Linked DNA regions of Homo sapiens. The main gene of each other region encodes a partner of the protein of the gene in region 3 in a complex. Each region holds a gene or a part of one and is shown on either strand. Other genes may lie near its edges. The genes, in order: ZFYVE28, MTOR, RPTOR and EIF4EBP1. A codon is read from its position in the direction of its gene.

What was found.
Region 1: the proteins of RPTOR (region 3) and ZFYVE28 are in contact, whole or in part, in a cryo-EM structure (PDB 9F43), measured with the Homo sapiens proteins. Residues at the interface, in NP_065812.1 of Homo sapiens: Arg54 (codon at 4,899), Arg305, Arg306, Thr317, Asp321, Phe337, Arg338, Leu341, Ala344, Arg348, Leu437, Gln438, Leu440, Leu441, Ser442, Gln443, Arg446, Pro474, Tyr475, Lys478, Leu479, Gln481, Ser482, Ser483, Ala484; in NP_066023.2 of Homo sapiens: Arg399, Val400, Phe401, Phe402, Met403, Asp404, Asp405, Val406, Glu407.
Region 2: the proteins of RPTOR (region 3) and MTOR are in contact, whole or in part, in a cryo-EM structure (PDB 6BCU), measured with the Homo sapiens proteins. Residues at the interface, in NP_065812.1 of Homo sapiens: Phe278, Lys282, Cys283, Ser285, Leu286, Pro288, Gln380, Ala381, Asp383, Leu384, Asp387, Glu411, Gln412, Thr414, Ala415, Val418, Trp419, Thr421, Met422, Arg427, Asn428, Glu431, Gln432, Lys973, Ile974, Asp979, Leu980, Glu981, Ser982, Lys986; in NP_001373429.1 of Homo sapiens: His597, Thr600, Pro632, Val644, Ser645, Gln646, Thr647, Ala648, Val649, Ala653, His686, Ala688, Gln689, Glu691, Met721, Asn722, Pro723, Ala724, Phe725, Met727, Pro728, Phe729, Arg731, Lys732, Leu734, Ile735, Leu738, Thr739, His743, Tyr771.
Region 4: the proteins of RPTOR (region 3) and EIF4EBP1 are in contact, whole or in part, in a cryo-EM structure (PDB 6BCX), measured with the Homo sapiens proteins. Residues at the interface, in NP_065812.1 of Homo sapiens: Arg54 (codon at 4,899), Arg305, Thr317, Asp321, Phe337, Arg338, Leu341, Ala344, Arg348, Leu437, Gln438, Leu440, Leu441, Ser442, Gln443, Arg446, Tyr475, Lys478, Leu479, Gln481; in NP_004086.1 of Homo sapiens: Glu111, Ser112, Gln113, Phe114, Glu115, Met116, Asp117, Ile118.

Annotation. Positions count from the first base shown.
Region 1 is NC_000004.12:2,338,505-2,345,679, reverse strand, and holds part of ZFYVE28 (lateral signaling target protein 2 homolog), read left to right. Parts: exon of another isoform or gene 1-4,064; coding exon 4,065-4,202; exon of another isoform or gene 4,203-5,640; intron 5,641-5,765; exon of another isoform or gene 5,766-5,912; intron 5,913-6,024; coding exon 6,025-6,227; intron 6,228-7,175. UniProt on the Homo sapiens protein: Negative regulator of epidermal growth factor receptor (EGFR) signaling. Acts by promoting EGFR degradation in endosomes when not monoubiquitinated.
Region 2 is NC_000001.11:11,252,454-11,259,628, reverse strand, and holds part of MTOR (serine/threonine-protein kinase mTOR), read left to right. Parts: intron 1-178; exon of another isoform or gene 179-205; 5' UTR 206-219; coding exon 220-381; intron 382-1,035; coding exon 1,036-1,144; intron 1,145-2,463; coding exon 2,464-2,696; intron 2,697-3,436; coding exon 3,437-3,637; intron 3,638-5,655; coding exon 5,656-5,790; intron 5,791-7,175. UniProt on the Homo sapiens protein: Serine/threonine protein kinase which is a central regulator of cellular metabolism, growth and survival in response to hormones, growth factors, nutrients, energy and stress signals.
Region 3 is NC_000017.11:80,540,891-80,547,949, forward strand, and holds the start of RPTOR (regulatory-associated protein of mTOR), read left to right. Parts: upstream 1-3,947; 5' UTR 3,948-4,739; coding exon 4,740-4,901; intron 4,902-7,059. UniProt on the Homo sapiens protein: Component of the mechanistic target of rapamycin complex 1 (mTORC1), an evolutionarily conserved central nutrient sensor that stimulates anabolic reactions and macromolecule biosynthesis to promote cellular biomass generation and growth.
Region 4 is NC_000008.11:38,033,516-38,040,690, reverse strand, and holds part of EIF4EBP1 (eukaryotic translation initiation factor 4E-binding protein 1), read right to left. Parts: intron 1-7,175. UniProt on the Homo sapiens protein: Repressor of translation initiation that regulates EIF4E activity by preventing its assembly into the eIF4F complex: hypophosphorylated form competes with EIF4G1/EIF4G3 and strongly binds to EIF4E, leading to repress translation.

The DNA.
Region 1 (7,175 bases), on a different chromosome or scaffold from region 3:
ATGAGTTTATATTTATTAAATTTGGAAAAATTTTGGCCATTATTCCTCCAAATATTTTTTTCTATCTCATTCCTCCTCGTTTTGGGACTTGAATTACATCCATATTTGATCTTTGAAGTTGTCCAGCAGTTCATTGATGATCTATTATTATTTCTGAATTGTTGGGATAGTTTCAGTTGCTGTCTTCAAGTTTACTCTTCTTTTTTTCTGAAATATTGAATCTGAGGTTAATCTCATGCAGTATATTTTTTCATCTCAGACACTGTAATTTTCATCTCTAAATCAGTTAGGGACTTTTAGTTTCTTCGTTGTCTCTAGTTAACTTTTTGAACACATGGGAATCAGTTATAACAACCGTCTTAATGTCCCTGATCATCTTTGTCAAGTCTGGCTTGATTTTGATTGATTGCTTTTCCTTTTAGTCATGGGTCATATTTTCTTCATTCTTTGCAAGCTTGGTAATTTTTTTTTCTTTTTTTTGAGATGGAGTCTCACTCTGTTGCCCAGTCTGGAGTGCAGTGGTGTGATCTCAGCTCACTGCAAGCTCTGTCTCCTGGGTTCATGCCATTCTCCTGCCTCAGCCTCCCAAGTAGCTGGGACTACAGGTGCCCGGCTATTTTTTTTGTATTTTTAGTAGAGACGGGGTTTCACTGTGTTAGCCAGGATGGTCTCAATCTCCTGACCTCGTGATCTACCCACCTCGGCTTCCCCAAGTGCTGGGATTACAGGCGTGAGCCACCGCGCCTGGCCGTTTTGTTTTGTTTTTGTTTTTTGTTTTTGAGACAGAGTTTTTTTTGCTCATATTGCCCAGGCTGGAGTGCAATGGCATGATCTCAGCTCACCGCAATCTCCACCTCCCAGGTTCAAGCGATTCTCCTGCCTCAGCCTCCTGAGTAGTTGGGATTATAGGCATTCGCCACCACACCCGGCTAATTGTGTATTTTTAGTAGAGACGGGGTTTCTCCATGTTGGCCTGGCTGGTCTCGAACTCCCGACCTCAGGTGATCCACCCACCTTGGCCTCACAAAGTGCTGGGATTACAGGCGTGAGCCACTGCACCCAGCCAAACTTGGTAATTTTTTAATTGGGTACCTGACATAGTGAATTTCACCCTGCTGGGGGCTATTTTTGTATTACTGTAAATATTTTTGGTTGTTCCGTGATGTAGTTTAGTTACTTAGAAACAGTTTATTCCTTTGGGTCTTATTTTTAAGGTGTTAGGCAGGACCAGAGCTGTGTTTAGTCTAGAGTTAACTGCTGTTCACATGGAGGCAGAACACTTTTGGGTACTCTACTCAATACTTTGTGAATTGTGAGTGCTCCTGCTACTCTAGCCTCCTGGAGAGCTCCTGTCACTGCTCCCTCAAATCATTCAGGTGCGTCTTTCCTGAACTTAGGTCATCTCCCCACAGGCATGTGTTGATCAGTTCTCGGCTGAACCCTTGAAACCTTCCCCAGATCTCCAGAGTTCTCTCTGTCCAGCTCTCTCTTCTCTGCCTCCTGCTCTCTGAATCCTAACTGCCTTGGTTCCATCCGAGTTCCCTCTCCTGTTCCATGACTTGAAACTTTCCTCAAGGCAGTGAGCTGGGGTAGTCATGGGGCTCACCTTGTTTGTTTCCTGTCTCTTGGGGATCACTGTCCTTTGTGGCCTGATGTCCAGTGTCATGGAAATCACTGTTGTTCTTGGGAGTGGGGTAAACTGGGTTCCTATTACTCCATCTTGGCTGGCGTTAGAAGTCCTAGCAAGTGTTTCTTGCAGCATACTGTGTGTGAGGCACTGTTCTAGGCACTGGAGACTCATCGTGAATAACAGAAGACCCTTCCCTCAGGCAGCTATGTTCTAGCAGACCAGGAAGGCTGGGCAATGAATCCAAGCACGGCCATGAAAGGCTCCTCAGCCTTGGGCAAGCTGTGCCACCTGGGCTGAGCACTAAAAGCTCCTCAGCCTTGGGCAAGCTGTGCCACCTGGGCTGAGCACTACAGCCTTAGACAAGCTGTGCCACCTGGCTGAGCCTCAGATCCTGGACTCTTCTTCATCACAGCTGGGGCTTACTGTGCACCGCCTGTTGCTGTGATTGCCATTGTTTGCTCATTTGTTTGTTGAATCATGAGCAAGGGACCTTCCTACCCAGAAAACCTTTTAAAAAGAAGTGACAGTAGTCCCACTTATTGGTTGAATTTTATTTTTATTTTTTGTATTATAAAGGCTTAACATTTTTCTTACAGTGCAGAATTTCCTTCAGAGTTTAGTGCATGATTTCTTGCCTGAGAAGGGTCATGCTTCCCCACTCATAGTGAGTTTTCGTATCTCTTCCTAAGAAAAATGAAAGTCAAGCCTCAGGAGGGATGGTCGAGATTAAAAATTGCCAAGGTGAGAGTGTCAATTAGTGTGCTCTTTCTGGAAAGCCATTTGGCAGTATCTCATTAGAGCCTGGAAACGCAGTTTGCACTTTTGACATTGTAATTCCATTTCTAGCAATCAGTGGGTCCTAAGGAAGTAATCCACACTCGGAGCATCGTGCACCACAGTAGTGAGGGCAGCATTGCGTGGAGGTGGAGGATTAGGCACATCGTCAGTGTCCAGCAGAAGACAAAGGAGTGAGTTAACAGGACGGTCCATATGCTGGAATTGCATGTCACTATCCATCAAAAATTGTATATGTGACAGATGTAATAACATGTTGCAGCAGCTACAACAGCAGAAGGCAGTATTACGTACATGGATCGTCTCAACGTTGGCTGAAAACAGGCCCTCGGAAGATGAGAATTAGAAGGAACTGTGTCCCACCTGCGGTCATATTTCCCCAAGGACATTTTCCCCACTTCTCTCCTTTCCCATTGGTTCCAGTTTTCCTAGGATGAACGTGTATTGATTTCATATTTAACAAATTAAAGCAAAAGTTAAACTTCCAGTGTTTTTGTAACCTACAGAATGAATAGTCAATGTTTAAAGAATAGGACAAATTTACAGAAAAGGATGGAATGCAATTTAAGATGTAAAAAAATGGGCTTCTTCTCCCTCATATACACAAAGTGTTCAAAACACTCTGTTATACTTTATATTTTGAACATAAGGAAATAAAGTAAAATAATTTTAAAGAGTCTTTAAAGTAGAAGCTGCTTCCAGGGATGCTGGCTCACTCTGGTAATCCCAGCCGCTCGGGAGGCTGAGGCTGGAGGATGGCTGGAGCCCTGGAGTTTGAGGCTGTCGTAAGCTATGATTGCGCCACTTCACTCCAGCCTGAGTGACAAAGCCAGACCCTGCCTCTAAAAATAAACAAAAAGCCAGAAGTTGCTGTGTATTGAGGCTTACAGAAGGGGACCTGGCTGATCAGAGAGGCGAAGTGACCTGTCCCTCGTTGAACAGCCATGAGGGATGGAGTCAGGGTCTCCATGTTGTGAAAGCAGCACCCCCTTCCAGTGCAGACTGACTTATGCGTTGCTGTAATTGATCTGCTGGTTCCAGAGGAGGTGGGAGGGGACGCCACCCTGGATGGAGGAGCAGGCCCCAGCTGTGCCTGGCCTTGACGTAACTGCACTCTTCTGACCCTAAGACGTGGTCTGTGTCCCTGACTCTACAGAGGAATGCACTGAGCTTCAGGGAAGACGAGGGCTTTGCAGGTCCCCAGCCGACTGAGAGTCCGTCTGAGCCCATGGCTCCTGCGGTTGCTGCTCTTTATTGCCCTGGCTGGAGTGCGATGGCACCATCTCGGCTCACTGCAACCTCTGCCTCCCTGGTTCAAGTGATTCTCCTGCCTCAGCCTCCCTAATAGCTGGGATTACAGGTGTGCGCTACCACGCCCGGCTAATTTTTGTATTTTTAGTAGAGATGGGGTTTCGCCATGTTGGCCAGGCTGGTCTCAAACTCCTAACCTCAGGTAAACCACCCGCCTCGGCCTCCCAAAGTGCTGGCATTATAGGCATGAGCCACCGTGCCTAGCCTCCTCTATCACTTTAATAATCCTAAAAAACAGTCACATGCACCGTGCGTGTTTTCCAGCAGTACATGGCGGCCGCCAGCTGGACACAGCGATTGGCGCACTTTCTCCTGTCTTCTGTTTCAGGACAATGTGTTGAACATCATTAACCAGATCATGGATGAGTGCATCCCCCAGGACCGCGCCCCCAGAGATTTCTGCGTCAAGTTCCCTGAGGAGATCCGGCACGACAACCTGGCCGGCCAGCTGTGGTTCGGTGCCGAGGTAGCGGGTGGCCACCCGGGTTCGGAGGTCCTGATGTGGGGTGGCGTCTAGCCAAGTCCCTGCGAACCTTGTGCATGGGCGCCTGCAGGTGCCGGGACCTGGTGTCTCCTCCAAGAGCTCCGTCCACTCTGGGTTACGTGGTGTGGTCTGAGCCTGGTAGGCCGTGCACCCCTGGAGGATCTGGGAAAGCCATGAACTGGTGCCCCCAAAACTATACATACAAATGAAATTTCCCATGTGGTTTTTATGAGGTTCACAGGCCCCCAGACAGCCAGGACCTAAAAGTGGTTTTTAATGGCAGTAATGCCCACATCAGGAACAAGTGTTCCCCTCCGGCCCTGCAGCATGGGCAGCAGCAGGGGCTGGGGAGCCGTGCTGCAGCCCCACGCAGGCCACATGTGGCAATAGCCTGTCATCTTCATCTTCATCTCCCAATCAGGAAACTGAGGCACCGAGAGGAAGGTGCCCTTCAAGGTGGCGGGAACAGTCTCCCCCAGGCCCCCACCATGCGGACTCCCCAGCCTCCTCCCCTTGCCGTGCTCCCGAGCCTGACCTCAGCCCCGACACCGCCACCCTCTCTATTGTGCCGTCCCCATCCTGCCCGCCTCCCCTTTCTAGGAATCCCTGGGGTGCGGAGTCTTCATCCCACGCTGCCCCGTCCCTGTGTCCACCCTGCCCACCCCACCTTCTGAGCCACCTGGTTGGGGTGTCCTCTGCCGAGGCTTGGGTTAGTTACAGGGGCCCGCGGGCAGGTTCTCCCTCCTCCCCAGCCTCAGTTTCCACCTCCGTGGAGTGGGTCCTGGGGCAGTCATGAGATGGAGCGTGTTCTGTGCCCGGCTGGCCTGGCAGGGGCATGCATGCACAGGGGTGGGCACAGCTCCTTGTGTGGTCCTGGTGCCCCAAGCTCTGTGCCCACCTGCAGCTTGGGCCTGGGCGATCAGCGCCGTCTCATTCTGTCACCTGGGAAATGGCTTCTTGTCCTGCATCACTTGATCATCCCTGAGGGGACAGCAGGTGGATTGGTTCTATCCTAAACCTGGCGAGGCCCCGGCCTCTAGACAAGCCTCCCTGTGACAACAGGTCTACCAGGGCCTGGACTCAGCCCCTGTGCCAGAGGGCAGCTTGGTGAAATTCCCAGTTGCTGAGCGCACGCTGGGGAGCTGCCTCGCAGCACCCAGGGCAGACATGGGTGGATTTGTGGGTGCGGAGGAGCCCTCCTTACCTGCCCAGGAGCCCAGGGACTCTCACACTGATGAGTCTGCGTTCCGGGGAAGGTTGCGTTTCTCTGGCAGTGAGCAACTTGACAGGTGGTGTCTGTGGCTCCCTAGATAGGCTGGGGACCTCGGGCCCGGATCAGCCCGGCTGCTTCATCCCTGGGAGCACAGACCTGATTGTGGAGCCTGGAAGCTCCAAGCTCCTTGAACTTCATCCCTGTGGCCTGGACGGGGAGCGGAAAAGAGTCACATGACCAGGGTTCCTCCTGCAGGGAGCCCCCAGACCCAAGGGCCTCAGTCCACCTTCCCCTCCCCTCCCCTCCCCTGCCCTCCCCTCCCCTGCCCTTACCTGCCCTGCCATGCCCTGCCCTCCCTGCTCCTGGGGCCCTGTGAGGACCCCGTGGGTCACATTGGGGGACATCGGTTATCGCCCTCACGATTGCTCTGAATGTAAGAAAAACCTCCTGCGGGGACCGGGAACACGAGCTGGCCTGTGCTGTGGGGTGAGAAGAGGGGCCCCGAGGTGCGCAGTCAGGTTCCCCGGGTCGGCGACCCCTGAGAGCCTGGCCCTCACCCGGGCCCCTCCCTGAGTGTGTCCCCTCCCGCAGTGCCTGGCCGCCGGCTCCATCATCATGAACCGGGAGCTGGAGAGCATGGCCATGCGCCCGCTGGCCAAGGAGCTGACGCGCAGCCTGGAGGACGTGCGGGGCGCCCTCCGTGACCAGGCGCTGCGGGACCTGAACACCTACACAGAGAAGATGAGGGAAGCGCTGAGGCACTTCGACGTCCTGTTCGCAGAGTTTGAGCTCAGGTACTGCAGCTGTGGGTCCACAGCCCTGGCTGTATGAGCTGGGGGACGGTTGTGCCAGCTTCCGGGGCTCACCCTGATACTTCAAGCTGGAAAATTCCACAGAGGGAGGAGCCAGGCAGGTTCAGGGCCGCCTGTGGGTGGGGTTAAGCCCTGGAGAGCATAGCGTGGAGGTGAGGTGGGGCATCTTTCCAGGGAGTGGGGTGAGCACAGAGGACACAGGTGTGGATCTGGCCGCCGTGGGCCTCCAGGGGAAGGGCTTTGGAGAGGCCCGAGGGGCCAGACATGCATGATGCCTCGGAAGATGAAGAGACGTCACAGGTGAGAAGAAAACAGAGGCAGCCAGGCGGGTGCGGTGGCTCACGCCTGTAATCCCAGCACGTTGAGAGGCCGAGGCAGGCGGATCATGAGGTCAGAAGATCGAGACCATCCTGGCTAACACGGTGACACCCCATCTCTACTAAAAAAAATACAAAAAATTAGCCGGGCCTGGTGGCGCGCCACTCAGGAAGCTGAGGCAAGAGAACCGCTTGAACCCGGGAGGCAGAGGCTACAGTGAGCTGCGATCCAGCCACTGCATTCCAGCCTGGGCGAGAGAGCGAGACTGCATCTCAAAACAACAACAACCACAACAAACAAAACACGGAGGCAGATGGTGTCCGCAGAGGTTCAGTTAATAAGTTTTTCATCTTGTAATCTACTGGCCCCTAGGAGATCAACCAATGCATTAAGGGCAGTCCTCTGCAGGAAGCAAGAGCACGGACAGTCGAGTTTTATTTTCTTGTCTTCCCCAAATTTTCTAAATCAGCTTCCATAAGAAAAAATTAGAGTTAGTGATTTATTTATTTATTTATTTATTTTCTGAGACGGAGTCTCACTCTGTTGCCCAGGCTGGAGTGCAGTGGCACGATCTCAGCTCACCGCGACCTCCACCTCCTGAGTTCAAGCCAT
Region 2 (7,175 bases), on a different chromosome or scaffold from region 3:
CCTACTACACTGCCTCTTTTAAACATCAGTCATTGTTTAATGAATCTAGGCTTTCTAAATGTTCCTCAATCAGATCTCTCAACCTTTTTAGAATCCCCTGCCTGACAAGGGCTAGGGGGAGATCTGTGTTGGGTGACCAGGGCCATAAGTAAATTTATCATCATACTTTCTTATCCAGAATATTAAAGGAAACTTCTCTCTAAAGAACCTCAGGGCAAGATGCTTGGAACCGGACCTGCCGCCGCCACCACCGCTGCCACCACATCTAGCAATGTGAGCGTCCTGCAGCAGTTTGCCAGTGGCCTAAAGAGCCGGAATGAGGAAACCAGGGCCAAAGCCGCCAAGGAGCTCCAGCACTATGTCACCATGGAACTCCGAGAGGTGCTTCTGGGATCTGGGGCCAGTCATTGTGGGATGTGTGGGCTAAATGTACCATCACTGGTTTACATTTTTTTTTGTACAGCTAAGTGAGGATTTGGAAAACAGAGATTATTTTATAAAGGCACCCAACCTGTCACATCCATAAAACATGCAGGTTCTTTTGCAGCAGTTGCACATTTTTGTAGCATTTTTCTTGTTTGTGGTCACATTTTAGGGGCCAGAATAGACTTAGCTGTTTCTTTTAACTTTTTATTTTTTCCTTACCACATACCACACCCTCAAATGCTTTCTGTCTGATAACAGTGATTGGGATGGGTTTGGAGAGTTGAGAGCTAGGGGCTTTCTAAATAGAGACCAGACTTGAGGTCAGAGACAGTATCTTGTTTCTCCTTTTATCCCTGGTACTAGAAAGAACCTAGGACAGGACATTTTCTGCCACAGAGTAGATACCTAATAAATATTTGTTAAATAATCAGATGATTGCAAGTTCAGGTACTCTACAGTGTAATCCTATAGAAATGGGCAGTAACTTGTCTTCTTTGGTTTGAACTATACCTCCTGCCTCTCAGGATCTAATCTTTAGATGCCAGCCCACTCCCACCACCACAGTTAGAGAATTATTAGAAATTGTTCTGATTATATCTTCTTTTGCAGATGAGTCAAGAGGAGTCTACTCGCTTCTATGACCAACTGAACCATCACATTTTTGAATTGGTTTCCAGCTCAGATGCCAATGAGAGGAAAGGTGGCATCTTGGCCATAGGTAAGGACAGAGTCTCTGGTCACAAAAACAACACACTCACCTTTGTGCCCACTGCACCCTGTGTCTGCCACTTACTGGATACTAGTTCATATTTGCTTAATGAAATTTAAGAAGCCCGTGGCTTTTAATTCTAGCAGCAGCCCTGGGCCACAGGAAAAACGTATTTTTAGATGTGGAAGTGGAGTCTCGGAACCATCGAGTGACTTTTCAGACAGTTTACCAGAGCTGAGACTAGAAGCCAGCTTTCTTTCCACTCCTTCATATTGCCTTTTGTGGGCTCTGCTTCCTCAGTAGAGCAGGGTTTCGCATAGTGGGGCTCACGAATGGAAAAGTGGAATCGGTATAGTTAATAAAAGGCAGGTCTTTTTTTTTTTTTTGAGATGGAGTCTCACTCTTGCCGGGGCTGGAGTTCAGTGGTGCAATCTTGGCTTGCTGCAACCTCCGCCTCCTGGGTTCAAGCGATTCTCGTGCCTCAGCCTCCCGAGTAGCTGGGATTACAGGCACCTGCCACCATGCCCAGCTAATGTTTGTATTTTCAGTAGAGACAGGGTTTCACCATGTTGGCCAGGCTGGTCTCGAACTCCTGACCTCAAGTGATCTGCCCACCTCAGCCTCCCAGAGTGCTGGGATTACAGGTGTGAGCCACCACAACTGGCCAGGCAGGTCATTTTTAACTTCTAAGGACTGGTCATCAGTCCTGTGAATTATTATCCAGTCCCAGTTGTTTTCCCTTTTTGGGGGGTAGGGGAGAAAATTATACTAGCATGAGATTATTTTGCTTTATGTAAATATTTCTGGCACAAGTATTAAATATCTGGGTTAAAATGAAAATTGTATCTGTCCTTGCCATCTAGAAATGTACTCAAAGTAGAATGGAGGGTTCACTCGCCAGATTTTTTTTTTTTTTTTTTTTTTTTTCTCTGAGACAGAGTCTCACTCTGTCGCCCAGGCTGGAGTGCAATGGTGCAGTCTCGGCTTACTGCAACCTCTGCCTCCCAGGTCCAAGCAATTCTCCTGCCTCAGCCTCCCAAGTAGCTGGGATTACAGGCGTGTGCCACCACGCCTGGCTAATTTTTTTGTTTTCTTTTTTTTTTTTTTTTTTTTGTATCTTAGTAGAGACGGGGTTTCACCATGTTGCCCAGGCTGGTCTCAAACTCCTGAGCTCAGGCAATCCGCCCGCCTCAGCCTCCCAAAGTGCTAGGATTACAGACTTGAGCCACCGTGCCTGGCCGGCACTCACCAGCTTTTAGTTGAAGTCTGCGTACTTTCCTGGCCAGCATACGCCCCATCATCACCTTTTGCCTTCCTCTCTTTTGCAGCTAGCCTCATAGGAGTGGAAGGTGGGAATGCCACCCGAATTGGCAGATTTGCCAACTATCTTCGGAACCTCCTCCCCTCCAATGACCCAGTTGTCATGGAAATGGCATCCAAGGCCATTGGCCGTCTTGCCATGGCAGGGGACACTTTTACCGCTGAGTACGTGGAATTTGAGGTGAAGCGAGCCCTGGAATGGCTGGGTGCTGACCGCAATGAGGGCCGGAGACATGCAGCTGTGAGTGTCTACAGGGAGGAGCACAGCCAGGCTTGGGGAACGATGGTGTCATGGGGGGGTCTTTTGCTTCCTTCTGAGGCTCATTCCTTAAAAAAGCTGGTTAGAAGAGCTAGGATTCCAGGCTGTGAGATGGGGTAGAGTCCGTCCTTAAGAGGGAATCTAGCATGGTGTGGTGGGGATCAGAAGCATCAGCTGCGTGCTTTCCAGTCTGCTGCCCTTCGGAGGAGGCAGTACTGTGAGGAGGGGGCACGGTACCAGGAAAAGGACACACACTTGGACCCTGGCTCAAGTCTTGGCTTTGCAACTTCCTACCTAACTCTGTAACCTGGGGCAGCTTCTGACCTTCAGTTTCTTCCTCTGTCAAATAAAAATAACAACAGGATTAAACATTAAACAGGATTATCCATTCAGTAAATATTTACTACATACCTACTGTATTCCAGGTAGAGTTCTAGGCTGTTAGTATAGTGGTAAAGAAAACATAAAACACATCTGCACTTCCAGAACTTATGTTCAAACATTACAAGCATTCTGTGTTTGTAAACAACCTAGGATAATGAGCACTGAGATGTTTAATCAATTTTGCTTTCCTTCCTCTGTCCTCAGAATTTCCTAGCTAGAAGAGTGAGCAAGCCTTCTCTGTTCCTGGTGTGTATGGCTCTAAGATGACAAGAGACTGTACTCCTGAGAGAACAAAACTCTGGTACCAATGAGAGTTCTCGGTTTGCTTTTTTCTCCAGGTCCTGGTTCTCCGTGAGCTGGCCATCAGCGTCCCTACCTTCTTCTTCCAGCAAGTGCAACCCTTCTTTGACAACATTTTTGTGGCCGTGTGGGACCCCAAACAGGCCATCCGTGAGGGAGCTGTAGCCGCCCTTCGTGCCTGTCTGATTCTCACAACCCAGCGTGAGCCGAAGGAGATGCAGAAGCCTCAGTGGTACAGGGTAAGGAGATGGCTCCATTCCCACCACTAGCAAAGCACATCTGCGTAGAGAATCACCTGGCCTAAAGGGCAGCCACAAGCCCTTGCCATGGAGCAAGAATCACGTTTTGGTTTGCTCTCAAATGAATTTTTTTTTTTTTTTTTTTGTGATGGAGTCTTGCTTTGTCGCCCAGGCTGGAGTGCAGTGGCGCAATCTCGGCTCACTGCAACCTCCGCCTCTTGGGTTCAAGCGATTTTCTCCCACCTTAGCCTCCCGAATAGCTAGGACTACAGGCGTGTGCCACCACGCCCAGCTAATTTTTGTAATAGAGACAGGGTTTTGCCATGTTGGCCAGGCTGGTCTCGAATTCCTGACCTCAGGTGATCCACCTGCCTTGGCCTCTCAAAGTGCTGGGATTACAGACATGAGCTACCGCGCCTGGCCTCCAATGAATTTTTTATGCTCAGTATGAATCAATAGTTACTTTATTGCATTTTATTAAAGCAAACATCTATTGATAGCCATACCATTATTCTATACATTATTTTATGTATGACTAAGAATGCAAATATGCCAATTAAACTGTGACTTGGTACCTCTTTCTTTTTTTTTTTTTTTTTTTTTTTTTTTGGAGATGGAGTCTTGTTCTGTCACCAAGCTGGAGTTTAGTGGTGTGATTTTGTCTCACTGTAGCCTCTGCCTCCTGGGTTCAAGTGATTCTCCTGCCTCAGCCTCCCGAGTAGCTGGGACTACAGGCATGTGCCATCACGCCCAGCCAATTTTTGTGTTTTTAGTAGAGACAGGGTTTCACCATATTGGCCAGGATGGTCTTGATCTCTTGACCTCATGATCCACCTGCCTTGACCTCCCAAAGTGCTGGGATTACAGGCATGAGCCACTGTGCCCGGCCAACTTTGTACCTTCTTCTTATTAATAATTAATTATAAGACATCTCAGCTGGATGCTCACGCCTGTAATCCCAACATTTTGGGAGGCCAAGGCAGGAGGATTGCTTGAGCTCAGGAGTTTGAGACCAGCCTGGGCAGCATGTGGGATCCCGTCTCTACAAAAAATAAAAAAATTAGCTGGGCCTGGTGTTACACGCCTGTGGTCCCAGCTATTTGGGAGGCTGAGGCGGGAGAATTGCTTGAGCCCAAGAGATCAAGGCTGCAGTGAGTCATGATCATGCCACTGCACTCCAGACTTGACAACAGAGTGAGACTCTGTCTCAAAAAAAAAAAAAAGACATCTCTTTTCAGAGATGTTAAAATACGGAAAAATAGGTGTCTCAAAATCAGTGAGATACAAATGATACTAATTTAGAAAGTGCCATTTCTCTCTGCTCTAGTATAATGAGGCCTGTGCTGATTACTGCTGCAGAGGGAACTTATCAGTGAGTCTTATATTAGAAAAAGAGCTCTGAACATGGGATTGGGAGATGCGGGTTCCAGTCTTGCCTTTGCTGTGTGATCTTGGACAAGTCACTTAAATTCTTTGAGCCTGTGTTTTTAGCTGTTAAATAGGGATGATGATGGTATCTTCCTCAAAGGCTTATTATGAGAATTGAAGCTGGGGCTGGGCGTGGTGGCTTACACCTGTAATCACAGCACTTTGGGAGGCTGAGATGGGTGGATCACTTGAGGTCAGGAGTTTGAGACCAGCCTGGTTAACATGGTGAAGCCCTGTCTCTACTAAAAATACAAAAATTAGCCAGGCGTGGTAGTGTGTGCCTGTAATCTCAGCTACTCAGGGGGCTGAGGCAGGAGAATCACTTGAACCCAGGAGGTGGAGGTTGTGGAGAGCCGAGATTGCGCCACTGCACTCCAGCCTGGGCAATAGAGCAAGACTCCATCTCAAAAAAAAAAAATTGAAGCTGAATTAAATAAAAGAGATTGATCAGTTAGTTTTGTTGATGACTGGCACTAGGCACTGAGCAGGCGTGGTAGCACCTCAGAACCCCCAGTGTAGATGGGATGGGCCTGTATTCTTTCTGGGTTTGTACTCTGTCTCTAATGAAGGCACCCTGTCTCTCTACATAGCACACATTTGAAGAAGCAGAGAAGGGATTTGATGAGACCTTGGCCAAAGAGAAGGGCATGAATCGGGATGATCGGATCCATGGAGCCTTGTTGATCCTTAACGAGCTGGTCCGAATCAGCAGCATGGAGGGAGAGGTGAGAAGCCACGGCAGAGGGGAGTCCAGGCTCCCCGTGTACCATTCTGTGAGCGAGGCAAGGCGAGATCCATGTCCTCATGGAGCTGACATTTTGTGGCAGGAAACATAATAAATAAGTAAATAAGATAATTTCAGATAGCAGCAAGTTCTATGAAGAAAGTCAAACCAGAATAGAATAGAGAGTGATGGGGAGGGGGTGAGTGGAGGGTCAAGGAAGGCCCTCCCTGAGGTGGTGTTATTTGACGGGGGTCCACATGACACGAAGGAGCTACCTTGCAGCAGGCCGGGGGACTGTGTTCCAGGCTGAGGCTTTGAGGTGGAAGAGTGTGAGACATTGATGAAACAGAAGAAAGGGAAGTATGGCTGGTGTACCGGGAGCAAGGGAGAGGGAAGGAGGGGCCAAATTAATAGGCCCACGGTTCACAGTAAACACGAGCTTTCACAGGGGTAAACATTGGAAGTATGCACACAGGCGAATAATGTGATGTCATGCGTTTCTAACAATCACTGACTGCTTATAGGAAAAAATGTGGGGAAAGGCAGGAATGAAAGCAGGGAGACCAATTAGGAGATGTGTTGGCTTGAGAAGGTGGATTTAAAAGTGCATGGATTTTATTAGGGAAACAGCCTTCAAGAGAATATGGGGAGGAAGCTGGGAGAAGCATCGGACCACAATGCACATCTGACCCTGAGTAAGCAAGAGGGTAAAATTCGGATAGAAGTGTTCTAGCCTACTCTGCAGGGCCACCGCGGGGTCCTCAAGCCAAAGTTGGCTGTCAGAGAGGTCTGTGTCTCCCAAGAGCAGGATAGCCTTAGCATCCCTACTGTGTTCTGTCATTGGCTGGGAGCAATGGGTGACGTTGGCACAAACTTAGTGATGGGTTTCAGAGCAGCAGCTGGGGCCCTTGGTTATGCGCCTTGTAGTTGGAGGTTGCATTCTCACGGCTGCCAGACGAAGCTATTACGGTAGTCTGGGTGAGTGACAGTGGTGGCTTTGACTAGGAGTGGTGGCACAGATACTGAGAAGTAGTTGATTCAGGATATATTTGGGAGGTAAAGCTCCATCTGTGAGACTGGCTGTAGAAAATGAGCTGTGAAATTTTACCCCGGGGATTCCTGCTTATAATAGACACAGTGCTTGTTAGATAATAGCCATGCCCAGATGTGGGAGCAGCGCATGCAGCAGTGTGCAGAAGCAGGAGGAGTCTGGCTTCAGATCCCCACCGCTCTGATGACTGTGCGACTCAGGCAAGTTACCTGTTTAGCCTCATTTTTCTCCCTTTGGACAGGGGCTCTTACCTACCTCATTGGGCTCTTGTGCGGTTTCTATATGATGTTGGCTCTCTATATCCATGAGTTCTACATCTGGATTCAACTAGTCAT
Region 3 (7,059 bases):
TTTTTTTTTGGTAGAGACAGGGTCTCACTATTTTGCCCAGGCTGGTCATGACCGTTTTCATAGCTTGAATCAAACCAGGTTTGTGTGTTTTCTGAGATTCCTAACATTTTGTTTTTAAGATTAAAGTATTTTAGCTGGACACGGTGGCTCATGCCTGTAATCCCAGCACTTTGGGAGGCCAAGGCGGGTGGATCGCCTGAGGTCAGGAGTTCAAGACCAGCCTGGCCAACATGGTGAAACCCCGTCTATACTAAAATTACAAAAATTAGCCAGGCGTGGTGGCGGGCACCTGTAATCCCAGCTACTCGGGAGGCTGAGGCAGGAAAATCGCCTGAACCCGGGAGGCGGAGGTTGCAGCGAGCCAAGATTGCGCCACTGCACTCCAGCCTGGGCGACAAGAGCAAGACTCTGTCTCAAAAAAAAAAAAAAAAAAAAAGGATCTTATTTAAAGTCTCTGTGGACAATAGATGTCCTTGCTTGTGAAGAACTGGAGACATTGGAAATTGGAACTGCAGCCCCGAGTGGCCAGCCCACCACATGCCACAGTCATGGAATCACCCAGGTGAGACAAGTCAGCCCTTGAATTTCCAGGCTGCCATTACTCACAGATGCTCACTGCCTTTCAAAAACCTAGAGCCACTTCCAAATGCTTGGCTGGGACTTGAAGAGAATCATCCGTGACATACTAGAACGAGGTTTCTTTTAAATGTCAAGATGCCATAAAATGATTCAGGCCCATCCTTGAACCTTCAGGGTGAGAGCTGAGCAGTCACAAGCCCCTTTCTGGTCTTTACATGAATCACAGAATTTCAAACTGGAAGGATCCTTAGAAATTCGCCTTCTCCAAGTTCCTGATGTCACAGACGTGGAGACCAAGGGTGGAGGAGGGCAGAGGCTTTGCTGAAATCTGCAGGAATTGGTGGCAGGTTGGGGACCATAGAATGTGTGTGTGTCTTCATCCTCAGTCCAGGACCCGAGTGGACCCCTGGCTCGGGGTCACATGTGTTAAACAGTAGAGGGTGTGTTTTGTTCTGCTGTTTTGAGGAGAAGGTGAGTCTCTTTCTGCTTTGTCAGATGGAAGTCTGGACAATTACTTCATAGCATTCATTCATTTGCCACACATATTGATTAAGGGCCCAATATGGGACCCGAACTGAATCACTGCAGGAGACTTTAGAGCGAATATTGTCTAAGACCTCCAAGTCTGCCTGGCTGTGAACTATCCTCAGAGCGACCTGATTTAAGAATTCAGATTCTGGCTCTCTTCCTTGGCGCTGCCTATGGAGGGGGCAGCCATCTCCTCCTTGGCATCATGGCCGCCCTCAGACCCCCTGTGAAGCCCAAGATCATCAAAAAGAGAACCAAGAAGTTCATCCGGCACCAGTCAGACCGATGTGTCACGATTAAGCGTAACTGGCAGAAACCCAGAGGTATTGACAACAGGGTTGGTAGAAGGTTCAAGGGCCAGATCTTGATGCCCAACATTGGTTATGGGAGCAACAAAAAAACAAAGCACACGCTGCCCACTGGCTTCTGGAAGTTCAGTCTACAACGTCAAGGAGCTGGAAGTGCTGCTGATGTACAACACTTCTTACTGCGCTGAGATCGCTCACAGTGTTTCCTCCAGGAACCGCGAAGCCACCACAGAAAGAGCCGCCCAGCTGGCCATCAGAGTCACTGACCCCCATGCCAGTCTGCGCAGTGAAGAAAACGAGCAGACAGCTCATGTGCATGTTTTGTGTTTAAATAAAACTGTAAAAACTGCAAAAAAAAAAAAATGCAGATTCTGAATCCCGGTCTCCCTGCTCCCCGATCTGGGGCTCTGGGTTGGAAGCTGGGCATCCTGAATTTTAGTTTCCTGGGCGATTCTGACCACCTGGTGGGTTTGGACTTCAACGTGCTCACTGACACCTTCGTTTAGAATTTCAGATACGAAAAATGGATTTCCCAAGGTCACACACGTTATAGGTGAGGAAACTGAGTCTCACACAGATTCAGTGGGCTTTCCCAGGTCACAGAGCTAGTTAGGGATGAATGGGTTTAGCGTTGCTGCTTTTCTGTAACTGTGACTTCCTGCAAGAGCTGCTGGAATGCAGCTGTCTACAGCCACCGGAGGTGGGGAGCAAGGTGACAAGGCAGAGGACAGGAGTGATTTTGTTGCCTTCAGATGAGAACGGGGTCTTCCTAAGACCCTGCATCCCTGAAGCCTCTGCTGGTAACTGTGAGGATAGTCTCTGCCAACAGAGAGGGTGCCCTGAGTTTCAATAGGAGAATTGGCTCCATGGGGTGTAATAACCAAACGAATGTGCGGAATGACAATGATTTAATCCTGTAGCCTTTATTAAAGGCTTGCTTTGTGCTGGGTGAGAAAGGTCTGGGATTGTATTCTTCATTCTCATTTTGAAAGGAACACAAATGCCATCAAGATTTTGATATGGATGGCCACATGTGTCTAAGCCCCGGAAAACCATCCTGAGAGATCAAGACCATCTTGGCCAGGATGGTCTTGAACTCCTGACCTCATGATCCACCCACCTCAGCCTCCCAAAGTGCTGGGATTACAGGCGTGCACCACCACGCCTGGCCTCGTTTTATTCTTATTTATTTATTTATTTATTTATTTATTTTTGAGATGGAATCTCACTCTGTCACCCAGGCTGGAATGCAGTGGTGTAATCTCGGCTCACTGCAACCTCTGCCTCCCAGGTTCCAGCTCTTCTCCTGCCTCAGCCTCCCGAGCAGCTGAGACTACAGACGCACGCCACCACGCCCAGCTAATTTTTGTATTTTTATTAGAGACGGCGTTTCACCATGTTGGCCAGGCTGGTCTCGAACTCCTGAACTCGTGATCCACCCTCCTCGGCTTCCCAAAGGGCTAGGATTATAGGCGTGAGCCACGGTGCCCTGCCTACATTTGGTTTTATAGTCCACCTTACACAGTTCTCTATACATTGTAAATGAGCCAAATTTCCTGAATTGAAAAAGAGAGTCACACAAGAGGCTTGCCTCCACGCACAGACATGTAGTTTTAGATGTCTGCACGTGAAGCTATATCAAAATAAGAATAAACTACTGCTACCAAGAAGTGGGAAAAAAATTTAAAAAGGATAAACTGCTCAGAAAACGAAACAGATTAAACAAAAAATTGTATTAGATGAAATTTTTTTTCATCGAATCTTGCTCCAGACTCTTCTTCTGTTGCTTCAGACCCTTCTTCATCTGAAGAGTCTTGCTCTGTCTCCCAGGCTGGAGTGCAGTGGCACGATCTTGGCCCACTGCAACCTCCGCCTCCCGGGTTCAAGCAATTCTCCTGCCTCAGCCTCCTGAGTAGCTGGGATTACAGGCGCGCACCACCACGCCCAGCTAATTTGTGTATTTTTAGTAGGGACGGGGTTTCACCATGTTGGCCAGGCTGGTCTCGATCTCTTGACCTCGTGATCTGCCCGCTTCGGCCTCCCAAAGTGCTGGGATTACAGGCGTGAGCCACGGCGCCCGGCCTTTCACTTGGTTCTCTATGAAAAAATTAAAGAGAAAATCTGATTGACACTGTGGAGGACACTACACTCCAAAAAAAAAAGTACTATATTTTCTAATATTATCAGTGCTTTTTAATATTTTCTAATATTATCAGTGAAGCTTTTGCCGCTTTTTCAAAATCTGGAAGAAACAAGGCGGTTGATTCCTTTAATTTCAGGAGCATGTAACTTCATTTATAATGACAATGTTTTTGAAAAAATAAATTAAACCGACAGTTTCATTTGTAGGATTGACTTTAATAACACGCCTCTACTGAACAAATGGCGATTAACTGGGGAAAACGGAATTATGGTAACCGAGGTAACGGGGTCGGGGACTCTTTCTCCTTCGCTGCATGCTGGGTGGCGGGGAGAGACCGCTCTGAGGAGGTTTGGTCTGTCGGCCACGCCGTAGGCCGCGGTGCATTCTGGGTCCTGGCAATATGGCGTCCTCCTTGATGGGCTGATGAGATGAGTTTCACTGTAGCTCCAAACCAGAGGGCAAAGCTCCCATGACCCAATAAGCCCACATTGTCCCTTTCCTCCGTGGTTCCGTGTCGCCCGTTTCTCAGGACTCGTTCTCAGGCAGGAGAGAGCCTCGGGGCTGAAGGCCAGGACCAGCCAGGCCGCGCGGACCTGAGGTTGAGGAACCGGGTGCAGGCGAGCACGATGGGCCGGTCGTGGCTCTGGTTGCAGCAGCTCAGACGAGTGCGGGACCCGCAGGGCTGAGAGTGGCTGGAGGAGACCCAGGGCCCTTTGAACCCGATCCCTTGGCCGGAGACCTCAGCCCAGTCGGCCCAGTGGGCGAACCGGCACCAAGAGCGGCCTGCCTGTCTTCGGAACTGCTGAGGCGGTGGAGGCCGAGAGCAGGGTCATCGTGAGGCCTGAAGTCTCTTACGCTTTTGGCAGCTCCCCTCGCAGCCCCTCTGGAAACGTACAGCCTCAGGAGCAGCCAGTGGCTTGGGACCTGGGGTGGTGTGTGTCTGCGGAGCTTCTTGGGCTGCCCCATTTCCTAGCGGCCCCCACCTCCCCACTTCCCGCTCAGAGTTAGAGATAAGGATCTCAGACTTTTGCCTGAGTAAGGGTCTCCGCACTCTTTATCCATTTGGTTTTCGATTTCCCGTTTTTGTTTCTTATTTCACCAATTCTGGTACACGCTAGTTTTTAAGGCTGGAGGTTCTCGAGCGCTTGCTGCCAAGGACTCCCCCACCCCCTCCCCCACTGATGGAGTCCGAAATGCTGCAATCGCCTCTTCTGGGCCTGGGGGAGGAAGATGAGGCTGATCTTACAGACTGGAACCTACCTTTGGCTTTTATGAAAAAGAGGCACTGTGAGAAAATTGAAGGCTCCAAATCCTTAGCTCAGAGCTGGAGGATGAAGGATCGGGTAAGTGGATTCTGAAGGCACCCCTTGAACTTGGTAGTTTCCCCAACAAAGAAAGTTTACAGCCCGAAAAGTGTCCTTGGGAAAGCGCCGACATTTCCCCCTAGCCACACGTTGTAAGTCAACTAGAAAGCAAAAGCCATTTCAGACTGCAGTTTTTGGTTGAAAATGGAAAATGCTGTTTTGGTTAGTCATTATTCACTGGGTAGTGTTAATTCAATTCCAACTAAGTTCTAATTCAGATAATAAAAGTTAAGCAAATTTGAAAATAGAGCATTGCGAGTATTTACATGCTCTTTGGCATACTACTTAGTTCTGTAAACACTTAGAGGAAGGACAACGTGCGATATAATCTTTATACCCACATGATTAGTCTACTTTTTAAAATATCCAAGCTGGGTGAAGTGCAGAAGTCTGATATACTATGCTAGGAAATGAGATTACTGGAAAATGTTCAACTAGTAACAAATTAGTGCAAAGTTATTATAAAGTTACACTGAACTTCATTCTAGTCTTCTAAACAATTTCTCTTGAAGCTAGATTTTCCTCCTTTTATGTAGTGTCCTGTTGCTGTAACTTGGAAACAGGATTTCTTTAATCGTGAGTTAGGGTATGAGGCGTCGAGACTTGGGTGCAGGTTTTAGGGTGTCCGCATGGTGTTTGGAGTGTGGAGAGTGACTCACAAGCAGCTGGTAGGAAAGAAAACAGCCGAATTTTGTTGGATTTGTCCTTCATAAAACACCCATCTATTTCCTGGCCTCAAAAGCAAAAGGGTAGTACTGCTTCTCCTCTATGCACACTTATAATTTGTCTTTTTGTAAGTTATTTTCTCCCTCCAGGCTGCTTTTATTTGCACATTTCAGTGGTATAAAAGAGGAAGTTGGTGTTACAATGTTTGATTTTCTCTAGGCTTATGTATATGTTTATGGAATATTATTGTTTTTTAGTATATGATGTTGAACATATATAAGATTACACTTCTGGGCTGGGCGCGGTGGCTCACGCCTGTAATCTCAGCACTTTGGGAGGCCAAGGCAGGCCTCCCAAAGGCAGGCGGATCACCTGAGGTCAGGAGTTTGAGACCAGCCCGGCCAACATGGTGAAACCCTGTCTGTACTAAAAATACAAAAATTAGCTGGGCTTGGTGGCAGGTGCCCGTAATCCCAGCTACTCGAGAAGCTGAGGCTGGAGAATCGCTTGAACCTGGGAGGCAGAGGTTGCAGTGAGCCGAAATCGCACCATTGCACTCCAGCCTAGGGGACAGAGTGAGACTGTGTCTCAAAAATAAATAAATAAATAAAACTTCTGGTAACTCTAGTCAGTCAGTCAGTAGTAACCAGTTAGCTACTGACTTGGCTTACTTCTAAAAGGTTAGGAAAATTTGTTTCATCCAAAAGCATTTTAAGGAGTTAAATAAGTTAGTCATTGGGGGAGGTTGTATAAATTCTATCTTATGGACATCTTTAGTAGTAACTATATAGTTAAAAGCTTTTGTGGTTGCTATACATATATGAAAAGACTTTTTAAAAAATTCTTTGTGGAGGGCAGTTTTTTTGTTGTTGTTATTTTGAAATGTGGTTCTCTCTGCTGTCCTAAACCTATGTTCCAACAGTTTGAAACTGATTAATGGGTATACGTTTGACCTTTTAATTAAAACATTAATTTGTGAATGATCAACATTCCCTAATAAGCTTTTCACAGGTTGTTAAGAGAAACAAAAGTTCTGTGACTCTTAGTGACTACTGAGATTGCTGCTTAGAAAGGAGCTGGGGAGAAAGTTTGCTGTATCTGTTTTTCGGTGGAGAAAATCAGCAGCTAACATCTTCAGTTGAGTGTGTGGGAGTTTGGAATCTTGTCATCTCTTCCCTCTTCCAAAGGTCAGGTCCTTTGGAATCTTGTCATCTCTTCCCTCAAGGACCGTATCACACATGCTATAGGACAGAAGTTGCAAACTCAAATGATATTGAGTGGGGATGGTAGCATAAGAGAATGAAACAGGCCACATTTAAGAAGAATAATGGCATAGGTTCAAAGATAAAGACAAATGGCAGCTGACATTTGGCACAGTGTGTGTGACAGTTTCTGGAGGGTGGGAACAGGGGCTCCCTGATGCCATAACTGAAGGGGCAACTGGGCTATGGCCAGGCCTCTCTCTTTGTCT
Region 4 (7,175 bases), on a different chromosome or scaffold from region 3:
AAGAGGATAGAGGGAACTCCCAGGCTTCCAGCTGTCCCCAGCAATGCCCCAGATGTATGGGTAAGACCATCTTGGAGCTTCCACCCCAGGACAGTCCAGCTGTACACTGTATGCAGCCATATGAGTAAGCTCAGCAAGATCTACAAAGAACCCAACGAACCCAAAAGATGGAGAACAATAACAAATCGCTGCTGTTTAGTTACTGTTTGGGGATGGCTTGTTATATAGCAATAGCTAACTGATACAACCATTTTCACCAAGTGTCCCTGCACACCTAAGAAGCCCTGATCCTCTGGGCCTAGTATCTGAGCTCTCTTAATGAGCTTTCATGGGCATAACCATCAGATTACATGGAGCCCTTTGCTGTGCATACCCAAATGTCAGTGAGCAGCAGTTACTTACTCTTGCCTTGTCAGCAATGCTGGATGCAAACAGGTAAATAAACAGCATCAGTCACAGTGTCTGAGACCCCGGCCCCAATACTGGCTTGTTCAGTGTAAGAAAAAGTTGCCAGATGCAGTGGCTCACATCTGTAATCCCAATGCTTTGGGAGGTTGAGGCAGGAGGATTGCCTGAGGCCAGGAGTTCAAGACCAGCCTGGGCAACATAGACCTCATCTCTACAAAAAATAAAAATTAGCCAGGTGTGGTAGCATGTGCCTGTGGTCCCAGCTACTCGGGAAGCTGAGGCAGGAAGATTGCTTGAGCCCAGGAGCTCAAAGTTACAGTGAGTGGTGATCGCGCCACTGTACTTCAGCCCATAGACACTCCAGCCTGGGCCACAGAGGTGAGGCCCTATCTGTTAAAAGTTTTTTGTTTTTGCTTTTTAAAAAAAAGAAAAAAAGTCACATCCACTCCCTGTTCGGTAATATTGGGACAAGAAATACCAGCAATACTGTTTAATACAAATGTTCCTTGACTTAAAATGAAGTATGTCCCAATAAATCCACCATACATAGAAAATATCTTAAGTCAAAAATGCATTTAGGGCCAGGTGCAGTGGCTCACGCCTGTAATTCCAGCACTTTGGGAGGCTGAGGCGGGCAGATCACTTGAGGTCAGGAGTTTGAGACCAGCCTGGCCAACATGGTGAAACCCCATCTCTACTAAAAATACAAATTAGCTGGGTGTGGTGGCACACGCCTATAATCCCAGCTACTCAAGAGGCTGAGGCAGGAGAATGGCTTGAACCTGGGAGGCAGAGGCTGTAGTGAGCAGAGATTGCACCACTGCACTCCAGCCTGGGCGATAGAGCAACACTCCAACTCAAAAAAAAAAAAAAAAAAAAAGTATTTAGTACACCTAACCTACTGAACATTATAGCTTAGCCTTCCCTACCTTAAATGTGCTCAGAACACTTACATTAGCCTACAGTTGGACAAAACCACCTGGCAACACAGCACACTATAGACTCTATAGTGGGCTGTCCAATCTTCTGGCTTCCCTGGGCCACACTGGAAGAAGAATTGTCTTGGACTACACATAAAATACACTAACACTGGCTGGGTGTGGTGGCTCACGCCTGTAATCCCAACACTTTGGGAGGACGAGGTGGGCGGATCACCTGAGCTTGGGAGTTCGAGACCAGCCTGACCAATATAGAGAAACACCATTTCTACTAAAAATACAAAATTAGCTGGGTGTGGTTGCGCGTGCCTGTAATCCCAGCTACTCAGGAGGCTGAGGCAGGAGAATCACTTGAACCTGGGAGGCAGAGGTTGCAGTGAGCCGAGATTGTGCCATTGCACTCCAGCTGAGCTTAAAAAAAAAAAAAAAAGAAAGAAATTTCATAATGTTTTAAGGAAGTTTACGGACTTGTATTGGGCCTCATTCAAAGCTGTCCAGAGTGCATGTGGCCTGAGGGTCTCGGGTTGGACAAGCTTGTGACTGGCCATTTGTCCTCATGTTTGTGGGGCTAAATGGGAGCTGCAGCTCACTGTCCCTGCTGAGCATCTCGAGAGCATGTACCTCGTATCGCTGGCCCAGAAACAGATCAAAATTCACAATTCAATGTACAATTTCTAGGCTGGGCGTGGTGGCGCACACCTGTAATCCCAGCTACTTGAGAGACTGAGGTGGGAGGATTGCTTGAGCCTGAGAGGCGGAGGTTGCAGTGAGCCGATATCATGCCAATGCACTCTAATGTAGGTAATAGAACAAGACTCTGCCTTTTTTTTTTTTTTTGAGATGGAGTCTTGCTCTGTCTCCCAGGCTGGAGTGCAGTGGCGTGATCTCGGCTCACTGCAACCTCTGTCTCCCGGGTTCAAGCGATTCTTCTGCCTCAGCCTCCTGAGTAGCTGGGAGTACAGGTGTGTGCCACCACACCTGGCTAATTTTTTGTACTTTTAGTAGAGACGGGGTTTCACCATGTTAGCCAGGATGGTCTCTATCTCTTGACCTCGTGATCCACCCACCTCAGCCTCCCAAAGTGCTGGGATTACAGGCATGAGCCACCGTGTCCGGCCAAGAATCTGTCTTAAAACAATTTTTAAAAGTACAATTCCTACTGAACACATATCACTTTCATACCATCGTAAAGTCAAAAATTGTAGTCACACCATCATAATCGGGGACTATCTGTATGAGGATAAGTAGGAGGGTTCAGAGAAGGTTATTCTCTGGCTGGTCCAGTGGCTCACGCCTGTAATCCCAGTGTTTTGGGAGGCTGAGGTGGTGGATCTCTTGAGCCCAGGAGTTCCAGACCAGCCTGGGCAACATGACAAAACTCTGTCACTACTAAAAATTTAAAGATTAGCCAGGCGTGGTGGTGTGTGCCTGTAGTCCCAGCTACTGGAGAGGCTGAGGCAAAAGGATCACCTGAGCTCAGGGGGTTGAGACTGCAGTGAGGCATGATCGTGCCACTGTACTCCAACCTGCAACAGAGTAAGACTTTGTCTCAAAAAACAAACAAACAAAAAACAGACAACATCATCAAAACAGAGAAAGTTAGTTTCTGCCCCTGGGACATTCTGAGATAAACACTTATACCCTGCAACTGAAAGGACAGAAAAGGAAATTTAAACGTCATCATTAAGCCAGCGGAGACTCAGGCCTGACAGTAAGAAAACTAGGTTATCCTGACCAGGCATGGTAGCTCACGCCTGTAATCCCAGCATTTTGGGAGGTCGAGGCGGGTGGATCACAAGGTCAGGAGATTGAGACCATCCTGGCCAACATGGTAAACCCCGTCTCTACTAAAAATACAAAAATTAGCTGGGTGTGGTGGTGCGTGCCTGTAATCCCAGCTACTCAGGAGGCGAGGCAGGAGAGTCACTTGAACCAGGGAGGTGGAGGTTGCAGTGAGCTGAGATCATGCCACTGCACTCCAGCCTGGGCGACAGAGCAAGACTCAGTCTCAAAAATAAATAAATAAATAAAATAAGAAAACTAGGTTATCCTGAGGGGAACGCTTTCATTCCAGCATTCTTTTCAACTCTTCACCTTCCAGACACTAGACCTGGCATTAGGTCATGTGGATACAAAGATGAGTAAGACTGCTCAGAAAAAATTTCCTGGCTAACCTAGGGAACAAACACGTAAACAAAAACGTGTGATTCATTCGCTATGAATCATAATGGAGAGAGACCCCAGGCATGGGTCTAAGTCAGACCAGAAAGAAACAGGTTTTTCATGGGTTTGTTGGCACAGGCAAGAATCTATGTGCACAACTGAACATTTTTTTTTTTTAAAACTCACCTTAGAAAGCAATGTTCCTTTTTTTCAATATTGCTGTGCCTTCCCAGGCCAAGCACAGTGGAGCATGCCTCTAATCCCAGAACTTTGGGAGGTCAAGGCGGGTGGATTACTTGAGCTCAGGAGTTTGAGGCCAGCCTGGGCAACATGGCGAAACCTCATCTCTACCAAAAAATACAAAAATTAGCCGGTTGTGGTGGTGCATGCCTGTAGTCCCAGCTACTTGGGAGGCTGAGATGGGAGGATTGCTTGAGCCCAGGAGGTTGAGGCTGCAACTGCACTCCAGCCTGGGTGACAAAGTGAGACCCTGTTTCAAATTAAAAAAAAAAGAAGAAACAATATTGCTGTGCCTTCCTAACTCATCTTCCAGAACATGAAAATAAAGGTCTATATGAGAAAATGCCTCGCTACTTTATGTCAATGGATAAATATGGTATTGCTCTGCTGACCCTTTTTCCTCAGATTTGGCAATGAAGGACTTTTTTGGTCTTTTAGGAAGCAAAAAAATCAAACTCTCTCTCTTTTTTCTTTGAGACGGAGTTTCACTCTTGTCACCCAGAATCGTTCGAGTGAGTCTCGTGCCTCAGCCTCCTGTGTAGCTGGGATTACAGGCGCCTGCCACCAGGCCCGGCTAATTTTTTTTTGTATTTTTATTAGAGATGGGGTTTCACCATGTTGGCCAAGCTGGTCTTGAACTCCTGACCTCAGGTGATCTGCTTAGCCTCCCAAAGTGCTGGGATTACAGGTGTGAGCCATCGCACCTGGCCTCTCCTTTCAAATAATAAAAAACTAGAGGGTCAGACTCAGAAGCAAAGCATGACCCTGTCTCTACAAAAATAAATAGCCGGGTTTGTGGTCCCAGCTACTCGGGAGGCCGAGGCAGGAGAATTGCTTGAACTCAGGAGGCGGATGCTGCAGTGAGCTGAGACGGTGCCACTGCACTCCAGCCTGGGTGACAGAATGAGACTCTGCCTCAAAAATAAAATAAAATAGGCCGGGCGCGGTGACTCATGGCTGTAATGTCAGCACTTTGGGAGGCTGAGGCGGGCGGATCACGAGGTCAGGAGTTCGAGACCAGCCTGGCCAACGTGGTGAAACCCCATCTCTACTAAAAATACAAAAAATTAGCCAGGCGTGGTAGCGCGCCTGTAAACCCAGCTATTCGGGAGGCTGAGGCAGGAGAATTGCTTGAACCCAGGAGGTGGAGGTTGCAGTGAGCCGAGATCGCACCATTGCACTCCAGCCTGGGCGACAGAGCAAGGCTCCATCTTGAGGAAAATAATAATAAATAAATAAATAAATAAATAATTAGCTGGGCATGGTGGTGCGTGCCTGTCATCCCAGCTACCCGGGATTCTCCTGTCTCAGCCTGAACCTGGCAGGTGGAGGCTGCAGTGAGCTGAAATCATGCCACTGCACTCTAGCCTGGGCGACAGAGTTAGACTGCCTCAAAAATAAAATAAAATAAAATAAAATAATAAGGCCGGGTGTGGTGGCTCATGCCTGTAATCCCAGCACTTTGGGAAGCTGAGGCGGGTGGATCACCTGAGGTCAGGAGTTTGAGACCAGCCTGACTAACATGGTGAAACCCTGTCTCTAATAAAAATACAAAAATTAGCCGGGTGTGGTGGCACATGCCTGTAATCCCAGCTACTTGGGAGGCTGAGGCAGGAGAATCACTTGAACCCAGGAGGCGTAGGTTGCAGTGTGCCAAGATTGCACCACTGCACTCCAGCCTGGGCAACAAGAGCGAAACTCTGTCTCAAAATAATAATAATAATAAAAAGGAGTCTGGGGATTGGAGGGATTTTGGAGTGCTCTACACCAGGAACCCCCCACCAAATCTTTAATAAGGGACACAGTGTGGAATGCTTCCAACACTTTAAAAAATTTTATTTATTTAATTTATACCGACAGAGTCTCACTATGTTGCTCAGGCTGGTCTTGAACTCCTGGCCTCAAGTAATTTTCCTGTCTCAGCCTTCCTAATAGCTGGGATTACAGGAGTGAGCCACCGCACCCAGCTCCTTCAAACACTTTAAAAGGAAGCTCAGGTAAATGTGAGAAGAGGGTCCATCGTTTCTCCCTCACTGCATTAATGTCCAAGCTCTTTTAACCCATCCTTAATAATTTCTTCCCTCCATGTGACTAAGGCCTCAGGACATGGGCTGTGCTCTGGCTTTGGTGCCCAGCCTACATCCCCTTCTTCCCAGCACTGCCTGTTTCATGTCCAAAGACTTGGGAGCTGCTCCAAGGTAAGCTTCCTGGGCACAGACCTTGTTTGCTTAACCAAACAGGGTGCCATTAACACCTGCAGCCCTACCTGCTCACCTCGGATTCACCTTATCCAGGTACGGGTCTTTGGCACAACTGCCATCCAAGCCTGTATATAGGCTTCAGAGTCAAACATGCAACACGGAGCTGGGAATGTGGAGATTGATGAGGGAAAGTTTCTTTCTGACCCACTCAAAGGTTCTGCTGGCTAATGAGCTGTTTATGGTGTCGCTGGATATTTTTAAGACTCCACAGACTCAAATATTCATACATGACACTCCCTTCGGCAATTAAATTATCTTAAGTACTCTGGACAGCTAACCTCAGAGCAGAGCCTCAGTGTGCAAATGGTTAATGACCATGGAAAGCAAACTGGAGGCCAGGTGAGGTGACTCATGCCTACAATCCCAGCAGTTTGGGAGGCTGAGGTGGGAGGACTGCTTGAGCCCAGGAGTTTGAGGCCAGCCTGGGTAATACATAGAGACCCTGCCTCTACAAAAAAATAAAAAAATTAGCAGGGCATGGTGGCACGTGCCTATAGTCCCAGCTACTTGCAAGGCTGAGGCAGGAGGATCACTTGAGCCCAGGAGTTTGAGACTGCAGTGAGCTATGTTTGTGCCACTGTACTCCAGCCTGGGTGACACCATGAGACCCTGTCTCAGGAAAAAAACAAAAAAAGGGCCGGGTGCAGTGGCTCACGCCTGTAATCCCAGTACTTTGGGAGGCCAATGCAGGCGGATCACGAGGTCAGGAGATCGAGACCATCCTGGCTAACACGGTGAAACCCTGTCTCTACTAAAAACACAAAAAATCAGCCGGGCTTGATCGCGGGCGCCTGTAGTCCCAGCTACTTGGGAGGCTGAGGCAAGAGAATGGCGTGAACCCGGGAGGCGGAGCTTGCAGTGAGCCAAGATCTCACCATTGCACTCCAGCTTGGGCGACAAAGCGAAACTCCATCTCAAAAAAAAAAAAAAAAAAAAAGGAAAGCAAACTGGAGTCATAGGAATGGAGATAGTGCAACCCAACTGCTGCTTCTTTCCCTCCAGGGACAATCACTTGAGGGCCATTCCCAGCAGGAGTGACTGGGGGGTACTTACTCCAATGGTTTTTCCTGAGAAGCTGACAGTCCCTATAAGTAAGCAGGTGCAGACAGCCATGCAGACACTCTATCAAAAGCCTGGCTCTCCACACCACGATTTAGAGATCAAA